2 separate regions of the Homo sapiens genome follow, and region 1 is linked to region 2. Evidence: fine-mapped expression QTL. Tissue or cell type: tibial nerve. Region 2 holds a variant in brackets; the other region holds the start of a gene. All regions are shown on one strand. Distances are from middle to middle.

What was found. PIP is the estimated chance that this variant, and not a neighbour inherited with it, causes the effect.
Region 1: it holds the start of CYP2D6, and the variant in region 2 is fine-mapped to the expression of CYP2D6 in tibial nerve (GTEx, PIP above 0.99).

The regions. Positions count from the first base shown.
Region 1 is chr22:42,126,319-42,134,444 of GRCh38, forward strand. CYP2D6 (cytochrome P450 family 2 subfamily D member 6 (gene/pseudogene)) reads right to left here and starts at 4,492. Exons shown (of 9, transcript NM_000106.6): 1 at 4,294-4,492; 2 at 3,420-3,591; 3 at 2,715-2,867; 4 at 2,466-2,626; 5 at 1,856-2,032; 6 at 1,524-1,665; 7 at 1,129-1,316; 8 at 533-674; 9 at 181-434. The coding sequence starts at 4,473. The coding sequence ends at 256. RefSeq lists promoters at 4,498-4,964, 4,551-6,083 and a cis regulatory region at 5,777-5,788.
Region 2 is chr22:43,065,744-43,073,743 of GRCh38, forward strand. TTLL1 (TTL family tubulin polyglutamylase complex subunit L1) reads right to left here. Exons shown (of 11, transcript NM_012263.5): 4 at 3,893-4,101; 5 at 2,667-2,847. Among named protein-coding and RNA genes, the nearest start is that of TTLL1, 20 kb to the right of the region's middle. The variant T/C (reference allele first, on the strand shown) is at 3,344.

The sequences.
Region 1 (8,126 bases), 940 kb before region 2:
GCAGTCAGAGTTGGGTCAGTGGGGGACATGGGATTATGGGCAAGGGTAACTGACATCTGCTCAGCCTCAACGTACCCCTGTCTCAAATGCGGCCAGGCGGTGGGGTAAGCAGGAATGAGGCAGGGGTGGGGTTGCCCTGAGGAGGATGATCCCAACGAGGGCGTGAGCAGGGGACCCGAGTTGGAACTACCACATTGCTTTATTGTACATTAGAGCCTCTGGCTAGGGAGCAGGCTGGGGACTAGGTACCCCATTCTAGCGGGGCACAGCACAAAGCTCATAGGGGGATGGGCTCACCAGGAAAGCAAAGACACCATGGTGGCTGGGCCGGGGCTGTCCAGTGGGCACCGAGAAGCTGAAGTGCTGCAGCAGGGAGGTGAAGAAGAGGAAGAGCTCCATGCGGGCCAGGGGCTCCCCGAGGCATGCACGGCGGCCTGTGGGGAGGGGAGGGGCGTCAGTGAGCCTGGCTCCTGGGTGATACCCCTGCAAGACTCCACGGAAGGGGACAGGGAGCCGGGCTCCCCACAGGCACCTGCTGAGAAAGGCAGGAAGGCCTCCGGCTTCACAAAGTGGCCCTGGGCATCCAGGAAGTGTTCGGGGTGGAAGCGGAAGGGCTTCTCCCAGACGGCCTCATCCTTCAGCACCGATGACAGGTTGGTGATGAGTGTCGTTCCCTGGGCAGGAGATGCAGGGTGAGAGTGGGGACTGGACTCTAGGATGCTGGGACCCCTGCCACCAAACACACGGGGGACACACACTGCCTGGCACACAGCTGGACTCTGTCAACTAGTCCTGCGCCCGAGAAGCTCCACAGTACCCTCTCCGACCCCACAGCAGGGCGCAGTCACACCTCTCAGAGGCACCCACACTGCCCCCTCTCCCTGCAGGCGTTGGGTCCTCCAACATTCTGGCAGGTCCTGGTTTGTCTCCCCACTAGACGGGGGCTCTGGATGGACAGGCCAGCCCTGCCTATACTCTGGACCCCCCACCCAAGTGGGGACAGTCAGTGTGGTGGCATTGAGGACTAGGTGGCCAGGGTTCCTAGAGTGGGCCCACCTGGCAGTAGCCATGCTGGGGCTATCACCAGGTGCTGGTGCTGAGCTGGGGTGAGGAGGGCGCCAGGCCTACCTTAGGGATGCGGAAGCCCTGTACTTCGATGTCACGGGATGTCATATGGGTCACACCCAGGGGGACGATGTCCCCAAAGCGCTGCACCTCATGAATCACGGCAGTGGTGTAGGGCATGTGAGCCTGGTCACCCATCTCTGGTCGCCGCACCTGCCCTATCACGTCGTCGATCTCCTGTTGGACACGGCCTGGACAGACATGCGTCCCCACAATGGGTCAGCACCCAGGGGGTCCGGCCCTGACACTCCTTCTTGCCTCCTATGTTGGAGGAGGTCAGGCTTACAGGATCCTGGTCAAGCCTGTGCTTGGAGCCCCGGGTGTCCCAGCAAAGTTCATGGGCCCCCGCCTGTACCCTTCCTCCCTCGGCCCCTGCACTGTTTCCCAGATGGGCTCACGCTGCACATCCGGATGTAGGATCATGAGCAGGAGGCCCCAGGCCAGCGTGGTCGAGGTGGTCACCATCCCGGCAGAGAACAGGTCAGCCACCACTATGCGCAGGTTCTCATCATTGAAGCTGCTCTCAGGGTTCCCCTTGGCCTGAGCAGGGCCGAGAGCATACTCGGGACAGAACGGGGTAGCCCCCAAATGACCTCCAATTCTGCACCTGTCAGCCCAGATGCGGCTCGCCGGGTGATGCACTGGTCCAACCTTTTGCCCAGCCTCCCCTCATTCCTCCTGGGACGCTCAACCCACCACCCTTGCCCCCCACCGTGGCAGCCACTCTCACCTTCTCCATCTCTGCCAGGAAGGCCTCAGTCAGGTCTCGGGGGGGCTGGGCTGGGTCCCAGGTCATCCTGTGCTCAGTTAGCAGCTCATCCAGCTGGGTCAGGAAAGCCTTTTGGAAGCGTAGGACCTTGCCAGCCAGCGCTGGGATATGCAGGAGGACGGGGACAGCATTCAGCACCTACACCAGACAGAACGGGGTCTCAATCCCTCCTGTGCTCTGCGTTCACCTGGACAAGTCTCAGGCCCCAGCCATCTCCAGGTAGACCCAGGGCCTGCCTGTCCTTACCACTGACCTCACCAAGTCCCTCCCCAAGTGCCAGCCTCCACCCTCTCTCCTTGCCCAGAGGAGAAACCTAAAATCGAAATCTCTGACGTGGATAGGAGGTACAGAGTCCTTGGCCTCTCCTGGTGCCCCCTGACCCGGGCACACCTCTCCCACGACCATGTCTGAGATGTCCCCTCCTCCTCCAGGCCCTTCTTACAGTGGGGTCTCCTGGAATGTCCTTTCCCAAACCCATCTATGCAAATCCTGCTCTTCCGAGGCCCCAGTCCAGCCCCGGCACCTCTCGGGAGCTCGCCCTGCAGAGACTCCTCGGTCTCTCGCTCCGCACCTCGCGCAGAAAGCCCGACTCCTCCTTCAGTCCCTCCTGAGCTAGGTCCAGCAGCCTGAGGAAGCGAGGGTCGTCGTACTCGAAGCGGCGCCCGCAGGTGAGGGAGGCGATCACGTTGCTCACGGCTTTGTCCAAGAGACCGTTGGGGCGAAAGGGGCGTCCTGGGGGTGGGAGATGCGGGTAAGGGGTCGCCTTCCCCGTCCCCCGCCTTCCCAGTTCCCGCTTTGTGCCCTTCTGCCCATCACCCACCGGAGTGGTTGGCGAAGGCGGCACAAAGGCAGGCGGCCTCCTCGGTCACCCACTGCTCCAGCGACTTCTTGCCCAGGCCCAAGTTGCGCAAGGTGGACACGGAGAAGCGCCTCTGCTCGCGCCACGCGGGCCCATAGCGCGCCAGGAACACCCCTGGGGGTGGGACGGGCACGTGCGCGTGGCCATGAAGGCATTAGCCCCACCATCCACCACCCACTCCAACCCTATGCTCCCCCTGGTCTCCCGCAGTCCCTGGCTCTGTCCAGCTGGTCACAGGGCCCACTCTTTGTGCATCCACCTTGCTCCCTTGGCTGGGGCAGGGCTTTGCCCCACCTCGTCTCTGCCCACCCTGACCGCCTTTGCACTCAGGGAAGACCCCGCGGGCCCCGCGCCACCCACACTGAGCTTACAGCACAGGTGCGGTCCCCGCCCCCCACTTCGACACCGGATTCCAGCTGGGAAATGCGCCAGCCTCACCCATTGGGCTCCTGCCAGGTCTCGGCAGTGGCCCCGCCCACTCGTCACAAGCCCCGCCCTCGTCCCCATGCTCACACCTCCCTAGTGCAGGTGGTTTCTTGGCCCGCTGTCCCCACTCGCTGGCCTGTTTCATGTCCACGACCCCGCGCCCTCTCTGCCCAGCTCGGACTACGGTCATCACCCACCCGGGTCCCACGGAAATCTGTCTCTGTCCCCACCGCTGCTTGCCTTGGGAACGCGGCCCGAAACCCAGGATCTGGGTGATGGGCACAGGCGGGCGGTCGGCGGTGTCCTCGCCGTGGGTCACCAGCGCCTCGCGCACGGCCGCCAGCCCATTGAGCACGACCACCGGCGTCCAGGCCAGCTGCAGGCTGAACACGTCCCCGAAGCGGCGCCGCAACTGCAGAGGGAGGGTCAGGGCCTCTTGTCAAGCCAGGATCACCCCAGACTACAGGTCCTAGTCCTATTTGAACCTTGGACGACCCCCGGGGCTACCAGGAGTGAGCAGGTGGAAGGAGGAGACCCAGCCTCCTGATCGTGGGGCGGGGGTGGGGGTCACACCTTCTGTGATGGAGGAACTCAGTTTGGATGCGTCACCCAGGTATGACCTTGCAAGAGTCACCAAAATTGCCGAGAGGCCCCAGTTAGCATCCCATTCCCAGATGATGGTCCATGCCGGTGAGCAGTGAGGCCCGAGGACCCACAGTGCAAAAGGTTTGAACCGGGTCACTGCACCCCCTTCATCCTCGATTTCGTGATTTAAACGGCACTCAGGACTAACTCATCTTCCATTCCCAAGGCCTTTCCTTCTGGTGTCAGCAGAAGGGACTTTGTACTCCATAACATATGTTGCCCAATGGGCTTGCATGCCCACTGCCAAGTCCAGCTCCACCTCCAGGCCCTTGCCCTACTCTTCCTTGGCCTTTGGAAAATCCAGTCCTTCATGCCATGTATAAATGCCCTTCTCCAGGACGTCCCCCAAACCTGCTTCCCCTTCTCAGCCTGGCTTCTGGTCCAGCCTGTGGTTTCACCCACCATCCATGTTTGCTTCTGGTAGGGGAGCCTCAGCACCTCTGCCGCCCTCCAGGACCTCCTCCCTCACCTGGTCGAAGCAGTATGGTGTGTTCTGGAAGTCCACATGCAGCAGGTTGCCCAGCCCGGGCAGTGGCAGGGGGCCTGGTGGGTAGCGTGCAGCCCAGCGTTGGCGCCGGTGCATCAGGTCCACCAGGAGCAGGAAGATGGCCACTATCACGGCCAGGGGCACCAGTGCTTCTAGCCCCATACCTGCCTCACTACCAAATGGGCTCCTCTGGACACACCTGGCACCCCCACCCCACCAGGCACAGAGGACCAGGCAGGACACTCTCAGCACACCGAGCGCGTGACCCTTCCCTTATAAAGGGAGCTGATGATGGCCTTTGCCCTCTGCTGTGAGTGAACCTGCTGTGTTGACTGTGCTGCCAGTGGCAGAGTCAGGCCAGGGCGGGTATGGGCTGCTCCAGAGGTTCTTGCCCCTGCTTCCTGCTCCAGGCCCTTACCCAGGGTAGGCCGGTGGAGGGGCCTGGTCGGAGAAGTCACCCCCTCTCCCCACTCCAAGCTCCTGAAGCCTGCAAAGCCTTCTGGGATAACCAGGGTTTCAGTGGACCCGGCCATCCACCTCCCAGCTAGGCTCATACACCCTAATGTAGTCACAACCCCTCCTCCAGAACATGGCCTTGCCCTTTCCCTACCCCCACCTGCCCACTCCAGAGTGACCTTCAGCACCCTTATCTGTCACTGGCACTTACCTGGGGCCTTAGAGCTCCTGATGATGAGTGGCATCATGGGCCTGGTCCCTTCACTTCACCTTGCACTCTTGACATGCACAGACGCTATGCACACACCTGATGGTGCACAGATCTCTTGTCCACTCCCAGACACTTGTCCACTTGTTCACACTTGCAGGGACACGATTACACACGCAGAAAATCACCCACACAAAGACAATATTCACACATACACAGACTCACACTGACACTTAGGGCACACATTCTCTCTCACACACACCAGTCACACACACATACAGACCCGGCACCAAGTACCCCACTTCCCAGCCATGCCGGAGGTTTCCTGGATGGGACCACTCCTGTCCAGAGGCTGCTCCCAGCCCAGCCCACATTCCTGGGCTCTGGCCGGGCTATGGCTTCTTGTTTGCAACAGGGCTGTTCCCAGAGCTCCCAGTTGGTAGCCGGAAGGCCCTTGCCCCAGCCTGTGACAACATCCTCCCGGGCTGCCTGAGGGTCGTCCTCCTCCACTGCTTTCTGGCCTCCATGTTTCTGATTAGAAATCTGGTGGGAACGTTATGGAGGATCCTTTGTTCAGGATATGTTGCTTTATTTTTTTTTTCTTTAGACAGGGTCTCACTCTGTTGCCCAGGCCGGAGTGCAGTGGCAGGATCATGGCTCACTGCAGTCTCGACATCAAGTGGACCCCCTGCCTCCCAAGTAGCTGGGACTACAGGCACCACCCAGCCTAATTCTTTTTTTTTTTTTTTTTTTTTTGGAGACGGAGATTTCCTCTTGTTGCCCAGGCTGGTGGCTCCCCTCCATTGTGCAATGATGCAATCTCGGCTCACTACAACCTTCACCTCTAGGCTTCAAGCAATTCTCCTGCCTCAGCCTCCTAAGTAGCTGGGATTACAGGTGTGTGCCACCACGTCTAGCTTTTTGTATTTTCAGTAGAGATAGGGTTTCACCATGTTGGCCAGGCTAGTCTTGAACTCCTGACTTCAGGTGATCCACCCACCTCAGGCTCCCAAAGTGCTGGGATTATAGGCATGAGCCACCGCACCCAATCCCAGCTAATTTTGTATTTTTTGTAGAGACCGGGTTCTTCCAAGTTGTCCAGGCTGGTCTTGAATTCCTGGGGTGAAGCGATCCTCCCACCTGGGCCTCCCAAAGTGCTGGGATTACAGGCCTGAGCCACTGTGACTACCTGATACGTCTCTTCTCTCTTGCTGCTTTCAAAATCCTGTCTTTTGTGGGAGGGCAGCTGCCGAGCTCTGGACTTCTACGGGATCATCCACTGAGGACAGGAGGACCGGGCCCTCTACAGGTGGATTGTATGGCAGCTGCCATGCTTGGAGCCAGTGCTCACCGAGCACGTGGCGGCTGTGGAGCTGGACGCGGGGTTGATAAGTCCGCTGGGGGTGACGGGCTCATCCATGAGTGGTACTTGATGTGGCTGCAGAAGGCGGATGTGGTGGTGGCAGAAGTGACACAACTGTCCCTGGGTATAGGCTATGATCTGTGCCAGGCCACAGCCCTCAATAAGTGAATCCTGTGCCTGCTCCAGCCGCAGTCTGGTGGAGTGCTGTCGGCCATGATCTGGGAAGAGGCAGATGGCTCTGGGTTCCAGGTGTGGGACTACGGAGAGGGACAGGTGGAGGCCCTGCTGCATGGATAGGTTGAGGCTGATCCTCCCGAGCAGGTTGCCTCCCCTAACCCAACCATTGGACCTAATCCCATTTTATTAAATTCTTCTCATCCCAGACACTGCTCTAGTACCAGTCCTGGCTCTTTGCCCCAGGAGCAAATTAAAAGGTACATTTAAAATTCTAAAAAAAGAAAAATCTGTCTTTTGACAGTGATTATGATGATGCGTATGGCTGAAGATCTCTTTGAGTTTACCCTACTTGGAGTTTGATGAGCTTTTTGGATGTACAGATTAATATTTTTCATCAGATTTGGGAGGTTTTTCAGCCATTAATTCTTCAACTATTCCTTTACTCCTTTCTCCCTGTCTTCTTTCCTGGGACTCCCATTGCGTGTATGTCGGAAAGCTTGACGGCGTCTCCAGGTCTCTGGATCTCTGTGCATTGCTCTTCATGCTTGTTCCTGTTCCTCAGAGGGTACTACCTCAGGTGGCCTCTCTCCATAGTCACAGGCTCTTTCTTCCAATTGTTCCAATCTGCTCTTGGGCCCCTGGGATGAATTTTCATTTATTTTACCCTACAACTCCAGAATTTTTATTTGGTTCCTTTTTAAACTTTTTTTTTGTTTTTTGTTTTGTTTTGTTTTTTGGAGTATCGCTCTGTCACCCAGGCTGTAGTGCAGTGGTGCAATCTCGGCTCACTGCAATCTCTGCCTCTCGGGTTCAAGCGATTCTCCTGCCTCAGCCTCCCGAGTAGCTGGGATTACAGGCACGTGCCACCACGCCCGGCTAATTTTTGTATTTTAAGTAGAGACGGGGTTTCACCATGTTGGCCAGGCTGGTCTCAATCTCTTGACCTCATGATATGCCCGCCTCAGCCTCCCAAAGTGCTGGGATTATAGGCATGAGCCACCATGCCCAGCCCCTTTTTATAAGGTTCATCCCATTATTGATATTCTCTAATTGGTGAGACATTGTTCCCACACTTTCGTTAGTTCTTTTGACATGGTTCTTTTCTTTTTCTTGGGAGAGGGTCTCTCTGTCGCCCAAGCTGGAGTGCAGTGATGCAGTCATGGCTCACTGCAGCCTCAACTTCCTGGGCTGAAGTGATCCTCCTACCTCAGCATCCTGAGAGGCTGGGACCATAGGCAGCCAGCTAATTTTTTAAATTTTTTTGTAGAGATGGGGGTCTCACCACATTTCCCAAGCTGCTCTCAAACTCCTGGGCTCAAGCAATCCACGGGCCTCAGCTTCCCAGAGTGCTAGGATTATAGGTGTGAGCCACTGCACCAGGCCTACACGTGGTTTCTCCCTTTGAAGTACTAGCCAGGCCTGACCATGCTTAGCTTCCGAGATCAGCAGGTTCCAGCCGGTGCAGCCTCAGATGCAGCATGTTTTAGGTCTTTGAACATATTTAAATGAGCTGACTGAACGTCTTTGTCTAGCAATTGCAGCATCGGGCTGGTCCCATTGGTGACTTTTCCCGTGTCTGGGTCGTCCTTTCGGTTTCCTTTCCATGTCTCA
Region 2 (8,000 bases):
TCAGTTTGCTAACTTTAACAATTCTGGTAGGGGATGCTGATAAGGGGGGAGGCCGTGCATGTGTGGGGAAGGGGTATAGGAAAAAAAAAATCTCTGTATCTTCTTCAATTGTGCAGTAAACCTAAAACTGCTCTAAAAAAATCAAGCTACTGGAGGCCTGTAATCCCAGCACTTTGGGAAGCCGAGGCAGGAGGATCACGAGGTCAGGAGTTCAAGACCAGCCTAACCAACATGGTGAAACCCTGTCTCTACTAAAAATACAAAAATTAGCCAGGTGTGGTGGCGGGTGCCTGTAGTCCCAGCTACTCAGGAGGCTGAGGCAGGAGAATCGCTTGAACCTGGGACGTGGAGGTTGCAGTGAGCTGAGATCGCACCACTGCAGTCCAGCCTGGGAGACAGAGCGAGACACTGTCTCAAAAAAAAAAAAAATTAAAAAAAAAATCAAGCTACTAGAAAAAAAATGGATGGTAAAGACCAAAGGTGCATCTCGTCAGCTGGCAACACGCTCCCGGCCTCTCACTGTGAGGGGCTGGGTCATCAGGAAGGAAATGGGGGTGGGGTGTATCCATGGAGGACACACCCCCTGCCCCAGGGGACAGTGCAAGCAGCTGCAGGACAGTCCCCAGGAGTCCACTCAGGGAAATGCTCCTCGGGCCTGGCCATCTGGGGGCTAGCAAAGTGTAATTAGATTTAAGCATGGCCGGGCATGGTGGCTGACACCTGTAGTCCCAGCACTTTGGGAGGCTGAGGCAGGCAGATCACTTGAGCCCGGGAATTTGAGATCAACCTGGGCAACATGATGAAACCCTGCCTCTACAAAAAAGAAAAATTAGCCAGGTGTGGTCGTGTGTACCTATAGTCTCAGCTACTCAGGAGGCTGAGGTGGGAGGATCGCTTGGGCCTAGGAGGTTGAGGTTGCAGTGAGCCATGATCCCGTCTTAAAAAAAAAAAAATTTTTTTTTAGGCCACACACAGTGGCTCACCCCCTGTAATACTAGCACTTTGGGAGGCCAAGGTGGGTGGATCACTTGAGGTCAAGAGTTAGAGACCAGCCTGGCCAACATGGTAAAACCCCATCTCTACTAAAAATAAAAAAATTAGCCAGGCATGGTGGGTGCCTGTGATCCCAGCTACTTGGGAGGCTGAGGTAGGCAGATCGCTTGAACCTGGGAGGCGTGAGGTTGCAGTGAGCTGAGATTGTACCACTGTACTCCAGCCTGGGCAACAGAGTGAGACTCCATCTCAAAAGAAAAAAAAAAAAGTAAACATGCTATAAAATGAGAAGGTGTCTCCTGTCACCCTGGGAACTCCTGACAAGTGAGTCATCTCCCCACTGGAAAAGGATCAGACAGAAGCTTTGCCCCGGTGGGCCCCGGGCACTTCTGAGCAGCTGAGAAAAAACAAAGACAGAGAAGCCAGCAGACCCAGGCCCCTGGGCTTGCCACGAGGCCACTGCCCCACCACTTGCTCGGCTGTGCCCATCGGCTGTGCCCGGCTCCTCCCAGATGCTTCATATTTCACATGTGTTAACTCGTTCCATCCCCATCACAACCCCATGGCAGTGGTGCTGCTGGTGTCCCCGGTTTACTCAGATGGAGAATGTAAGACATGGAGAGTCTGAAGAACAAAATACGCTCAGCCACTTCGTGTGAGACTGGGCTTCAAACCCAGGACCCTAGGGCCACGAGTCCCAGGACTTTGGCAGGTGCCTCGCTGCCTCAGAACCACCACGACTGAGCGGTTCTCACACCAGCCTGTAATCAAAAAGTGGCTGCAGGCCCTGGCCCATGACCTACACCCTTCTTCATGGCCTGCCTTGGGCAGAGTCTGGGACTAATCACACGAAGACAACCACAGAACCCCACCGTGACGCCACGTGACAGATGACGCACGCCTGTAAAAGCAAGCATGGGCTGTGTGGCTCATGGCCAAAGACCACAGAACAGGCCAGGAACAGTGAATCACGCCTGTAATCCCAGCACTTTGGGAGGCCGAGGTGGGTGGATCACCCTGAGGTCAGGAGTTTGAGACCAGCCTGGCTAACAGGGCAAAACCCCACCTCTCTCTCTTTCTTTTTTTTAGACAGAATCTCACTCTGTCACCCAGGCTGGAGTGCATGGCGCGATCTCAGCTCACTGCAACCTCTGCCTTCTGGGTTCAAGCGATTCTCCTGCCTCAGCCTCCTGAGTAGATGGGATTACAGGCACCTGCCACCTCACCTGGCTAATTTTTTTTTTTTTTTTTGTATTTTTAGTAGAGATGGAGTTTCGCCATCTTGGCCAGGCTGGTCTTGATCTCCTGACCTCATGATCCACCCACCTCGGCCTCCCAAAGGGCTGAGATTACAGGCATGAGCCACCATGCCCAGCCGCAAAACCCCATCTCTATTTAAAAAAAAAAAACTCTATTAAAAAAATACAAAAATTAGCTGGGCGTGGTGACGCATGCCTGTAATCCCAACTACTCGGGAGGCTGAAGCAGGAGAATCGCTTGAACCCAGAAGGCGGAGGTTGCAGTGAGCTGAGATTGTGCCACTGTAATCCTGCCTGGGCGACAGAGTGAGACTCTGTCAAAAAAAAACCAAACAAAAACCCACAAAGACTGCGAACAGCATAAAACGGTGAACTGGGACCTGGCACACAAAGTGGGTGGCTGCCCACACTTACGAAGATGTCTTGCTGTCCCGGGACCACTTTTTGATCTGTGAGAGCTTGTTGATAAGGAAGATGCCCTTTCCCTGGGCCTTGCCACAAGGCTTCATGATCCAGGTGCTGGACGGGCTCTTCCGGAACTCCTCTACAAACAGGTTGTAGTCAGCGGGCAGCATATAGGTGACTGGAACAAAGTCTGCAAGGCAAAGACACCCAGCACTGGTAAGCAGCCAGCCCAACAGTGGCCATGAACAGAAAGATCTTGCCCTTGCCTTTCCAGGGCCTGTGGGCTGAGTGTCCCCCACCGCAACCCAGCAGCTAACAGAACAAGGGCCTCTGCTGCACAATCCCTGGGCAACACTCACAAGTTACATTTATAGAGCCTACCTAAGCACCTTACAAACCTGTATTTTTCAATCCCCACGGCCACCTGGGAGCTACTGTAAACCCTGTAATAATTCCCATTTAGCAGACGAGGAAACTGAGGCCCAGGGAGATCAGATAGAGAATTCTACCCAGGTTTGTGAAGAAATCTGAAACTATTCAGTCCAGCTTTTATCCCGGACTTGGACAGGGACACACTGTCTTCCCTGGGTATAGCCAGACACAGTCATGAGCCCTCGTGGCAGCCTGTGGCTCAAGAAGTATTTCCCCAGGCTGAGCGCTGAGGGCATCCTCTGGCTTACACAAAG[T/C]CCATGCTGGCTGGGTGTGGTGGCTCACGTCTATAATCCCAGCACTTTGGGAGGCAGAAGCGGGTGGATCACAAGGTCAGGAGTTCGAGACCAGCCTGGCCAATATGGTGAAATCCCATCTCTACTAAAAATACAAAAAAAAAAAAAAAAAAAAAATTAGTCGGGCATGGTAGAGGGCACCAGTAGTCCCAGCTACTTGGGAGGCTGAGGCAGGAGAATTGCTTGAACTCAGGAGGCGGAGGTTGCAGTGAGCTGAGATCGCGCCACTACACTCCAGCCTGGATGACAGAGTGAGATTCTGTCTCAAAAAAAAAAAAAAAAAAACGCCATGCCAGGCAATTCCCAAGGCACTCACAGAAACTAGGATGCCACACTCAGGCCCCTCCTTCTCCCTCATTCTGGAGACACCTGAAATGAAACAGGTGCCACCACAACTCGCATGGACATGCTCACGCATCAAAGCCAACAGTCACCACCTCAGCGCCTCGCGCCCCAAAGAAAAAATTCAGCTGTTTACTGAAAACATGAGCCGGTGGAAGACGCACAAACCCAGATAGAGGTATTTTCCATTTTCATCTTTTTCTGCCAGAGGACTCCCTTCTTTCTCCAGCTCCTTCCTGTATCTTTTGATGTTCTTCACCATCAGGTCCTTCCGGGTCAGTTCATAGTGGTTTGGAAAATGGTTGACTATTTGGTCATCTGAGAGCCGATATCCAGCTTCAACGCTGAACACATTTCGGATGGTTTGCACACTCATCCTGAAAGAGATGAGCAGGAGAGACACTTGGCAGTGATGTCTGTGTGGCAGAAGTCCTTTGTTCCCGTCCCCGCAAACACCCTGAACCCTCAGCACCCTTCACCACTACTCCCACATCCCCTGGCACCTGAGCCAGGGGTTGCCCGGCCCACAGCAGCAGAGAATGGGTGCCCAGGGACAGGCCGGGACCCAAGTGGTGTGAGGGCCAGGAGCTGTGCTGATTCTGAGCTGTTTCCCTCTCTGGCCCGGAGCAGGCACTCAATAGATGTTTATTGATTAGTGATAACACGGATTAATGATAACACTGTCAACAAATAAAAGATATACCCTTTTCAGACTCTGAAGTCAGGAAACTCATTTAAACAGGATCTGTACCGAAATTCAGGAAGGTCAAGGAGCCTTTAAAAACAAAATCACAGGGGTTATTTAAGGGCCCTGAGTCAGTATTTGATATTCTTGGAGAGTCTGCTGAAGGGGCAAGTTGGGGACGACAGAGTTGAAAGAGAAATAGATTCCTTCTGAGCCTCTGAGAAAGCCACGGTCTCCCCGCCACACGCCTGTCCTCACCAACCCCCAGAGAAGCAGGGAAGGGGTACGGAGGAAGGGCTGGCCCCTGCTCAGAGCCAGAGTCACAAAACATGGCAAGTGGCCCCAGCCTCTTGCACTGTGGTCCCTGTGCCCCCAGCCTACCCCCACCCCACAGCACCACCCTAGAGAGGGTGCCCGGAGCCCCCGAAGGGTTGCTGTGGATTCCAGGATGGCTAGAATAAAGGGAATCTTTTTTGACTTTTTATTATGGAAAACCTCCATCACACTCAGAAGGAGAGAGAAAGCGTTAAGGGACCCCCATTGCCCCACTTCACCAGTTAACGGCACGTGGCCAGTCTCGTTTAGTCTGAACCTCCACCCCCCTCAGCACTGGCATGTTCTGAACCAATTCCCAGACATCATATTATTTCATCCAAAGCATTTCTGTAAGATTCTCTAACGGTTCAAGACTCCATGTTTAATTATGTGATATCCTATTTTATATAATTATCAGAACTAAAAAAGCAATATGTATGTATGTATGTATGTATTTATTTTTGAGACAGGGTCTCGCTCTGTTGCCCAGGCCGGGGTGTCATGACTTGATCTCGCCGCACTGCAACCTCTGCCTCCCAGGCTCAAGCAATCCTCCTCTCTCAGCTTCCCAAGTAGCTGGGACTACAGGAAGGGGCCACCGTGTCCTGCTAAATTTTTATAATTTTTTTTGTAGAGATGGGGATTTGCCATGTTGCCCAGGCTGGTCTCAAACTCCTGGATTCAACTGATCCTGCCGCCTCAGCCTCCCAAAGTGCTGCAGTTACAGGTGTGAGCCACCGTGCTTGGCAACGGCAGGAATACTTCTATAGGGACAAGCTTCCCTTCATCAACAATCTAGGTGCCTCAAGAACAGTTCATACACAAAACACAGAATCAGTGCTTGATTCTTTCCCTTTATTTATCAGTTTTTCAAAATAAAGAGCTGGCCGGGCGCAGTGGCTCACGTCTGTAATCCAGCACTTTTGTTTTGTTTTGTTTTGTTTTGTTTATTTGTTTTTGGAGATAGAGTTTTACTCTGTTGCCCAGGCTGGAGTGCAGTGGCACGATCTTGGCTCACTGCAACCTCTGCCTCGCAGGTTCGAGCCATTCTCCTGCCTCAGCCTCCTGAGTAGCTGGGATTACAGACATGAACCACCACACACCGCTAATTGTTATATTTTTAGTAGAGACGGGGTTTTGCCACGTTGGCCAGGCTGGTCTCAAACTCCTGACCTCAGGTGATCTGCCCGACTTGGCTTCCCACAGTGCTAGGATTGCAGGCGTGAGCCACCATGCCGGCCTATAATCCAGCACTTTGGAAGGCTGAGAATTGGGGCAGGGCTCAGCTGAGCAATTCTACTTCTCCTTGTGGCACTGACTGAGGTCATTCAGAAGTGTAGAGCCAGCCGATGGGATGAGCTGGGGGTCCCAGAAGGCTTTCTTCATGTCTAACACCTTGGCAGGCCTAGCTGGAGGCTGGAAGGTGGGCACAGCTGCACTGCCATGTACAACACCTACCTGTGGCCGCTGTGGCACGAGGGCTTCAGGATGGCACCTTCTCACAGGACAGCTCAGGGCACCCACATGTTTCCAACAGAGGAATTGGCCTGGGCCCAGGCATGTATGATTTTTACTGTATTCCACTGGTCAATGTGGTCAAAGAGTCTTTCACGAGGAAAGGACAAAGACCTCAACTTTAGAGTGAAGTAGTGGCAAGAACTTCGCAACCATCTTTATTTTCTTTTTCTTTTTTTTTTTTTTTTTGAGACGGAGTCTTGCTCTGTCGCCCAGGCTGGAGTGTAGTGGCGTGACCTCGGCTCACTGCAATCTCCGCCTCCCGGGTTCACGCCATTCTCCTGTCTCAGCCTCCCGAGTAGCTGGGACTACCGGCACTCGCCACCACGCCCGGATAATTTTTTTGTATTTTTAGTAGAGATGAGGTTTCACTGTGTTAGCCTGGATAGTCTCGATCTCCTGACCTTGTGATCCGCCCATCTCGGCCTCCCAAAGTGCTGGGATTACAGGCGTGAGCCACCGCGCCTGGCCACCATCTTTATTTTCTCTCTTTCTTTCTTTCTTTTAGAGACAAGGTCTCACTCTGTTGCCCAGGCTGGAGTGCAGTAGCACAATCAAGGCTCACTGTAGTCTTGACCTCCTGGGCTCAAGCAAGCCTCCCACCTCAGCCTCTCAAGTAGCTGGGGCTACAGGCACGAACCACTATGCCTGGATAATTTTTGTATTTGTTTGTAGAGATGAGGTTTCACCATTTGCACAGGCTGGTGTCAAACTCCTGGGCTCAAGAGATCTGTCTGCCTCCACCTCCCAAAAGGCTGGGATTACAGGCATGAGTCACTGCACCCAGGCACCCCACCACCCAGCTAATTTTTTTGAGACAGGGTCTCAGTATACTGCCCAGGCTGGTCTCAAACTCCTCGCAAGGTGCTGGGATTACAGGCATGAGCCACTGTGCCCAAGAGTTCTATGCCCTGGCCTGTGGCCATCTTTAATCTGCCACAAATTGGGTATGTGGCTTTTGGGGTATTTTTCTGTTTGCAGTTGTATGAACTTATAAATTCAAATACATATGATAAGTTTCAATTCATTGCAATTATTCTTTTTTTTTTTTTGAGACAGTCTTGCTGTGTCGCCCAGGCTGGAGTGCAGTGGTGCGATCTTAGCTAACTGCAACCTCCGCCTCCTGGGTTCAAGCAATTCTCCCTGCCTCAGCCTCTCAAGTAGCTGGGATTACAGGCGCCTGCCACTAAGCCCAGCTAATTTTTGTATTTTTAGTAGAGACAGGGTTTCACCATGTTGGCCATGGTTGGCCAGGCTGGTCTCAAACTCCTGACCTCAGGTGATCCACCTGCCTGGGCATCCCAAGGTGCTGAGATTATAGGTGTGAGCCACTGCGCCCGGTCTATTTATTTATTTATTTATTTATTTATTTATTTATTTATTTTATTTTTTGAGGTACAGTCTCACTCTGTCACCCAGGCTGGAGTGCAGTGGTGTGATTTCAGCTCACTGCAACCTCTGCCTCCCAGGTTGAGGCCATTTGCCTGCCTCAGCCTCCCGGGCAGCTAGGATTACAGGTGCGCACCACCACACCCAGATAATTTTTGTATTTTTGTAGTGATGGGGTTTCACCAAGTTGGCTAGGCTGGTCTCCAACTCCTGACCTCAGGTGATGCACCCGCCTTGGCCTCCCAAAGTGCTGGGATTACAGGCATGAGCCGCTGTGCCCAGCCCATCATAATTATTTTAACGGCTGCACCATAATCCACTCAAAGTACTTAACCCACCCCCCCATACTGTTTAACATTTAGTTGTTTCCAG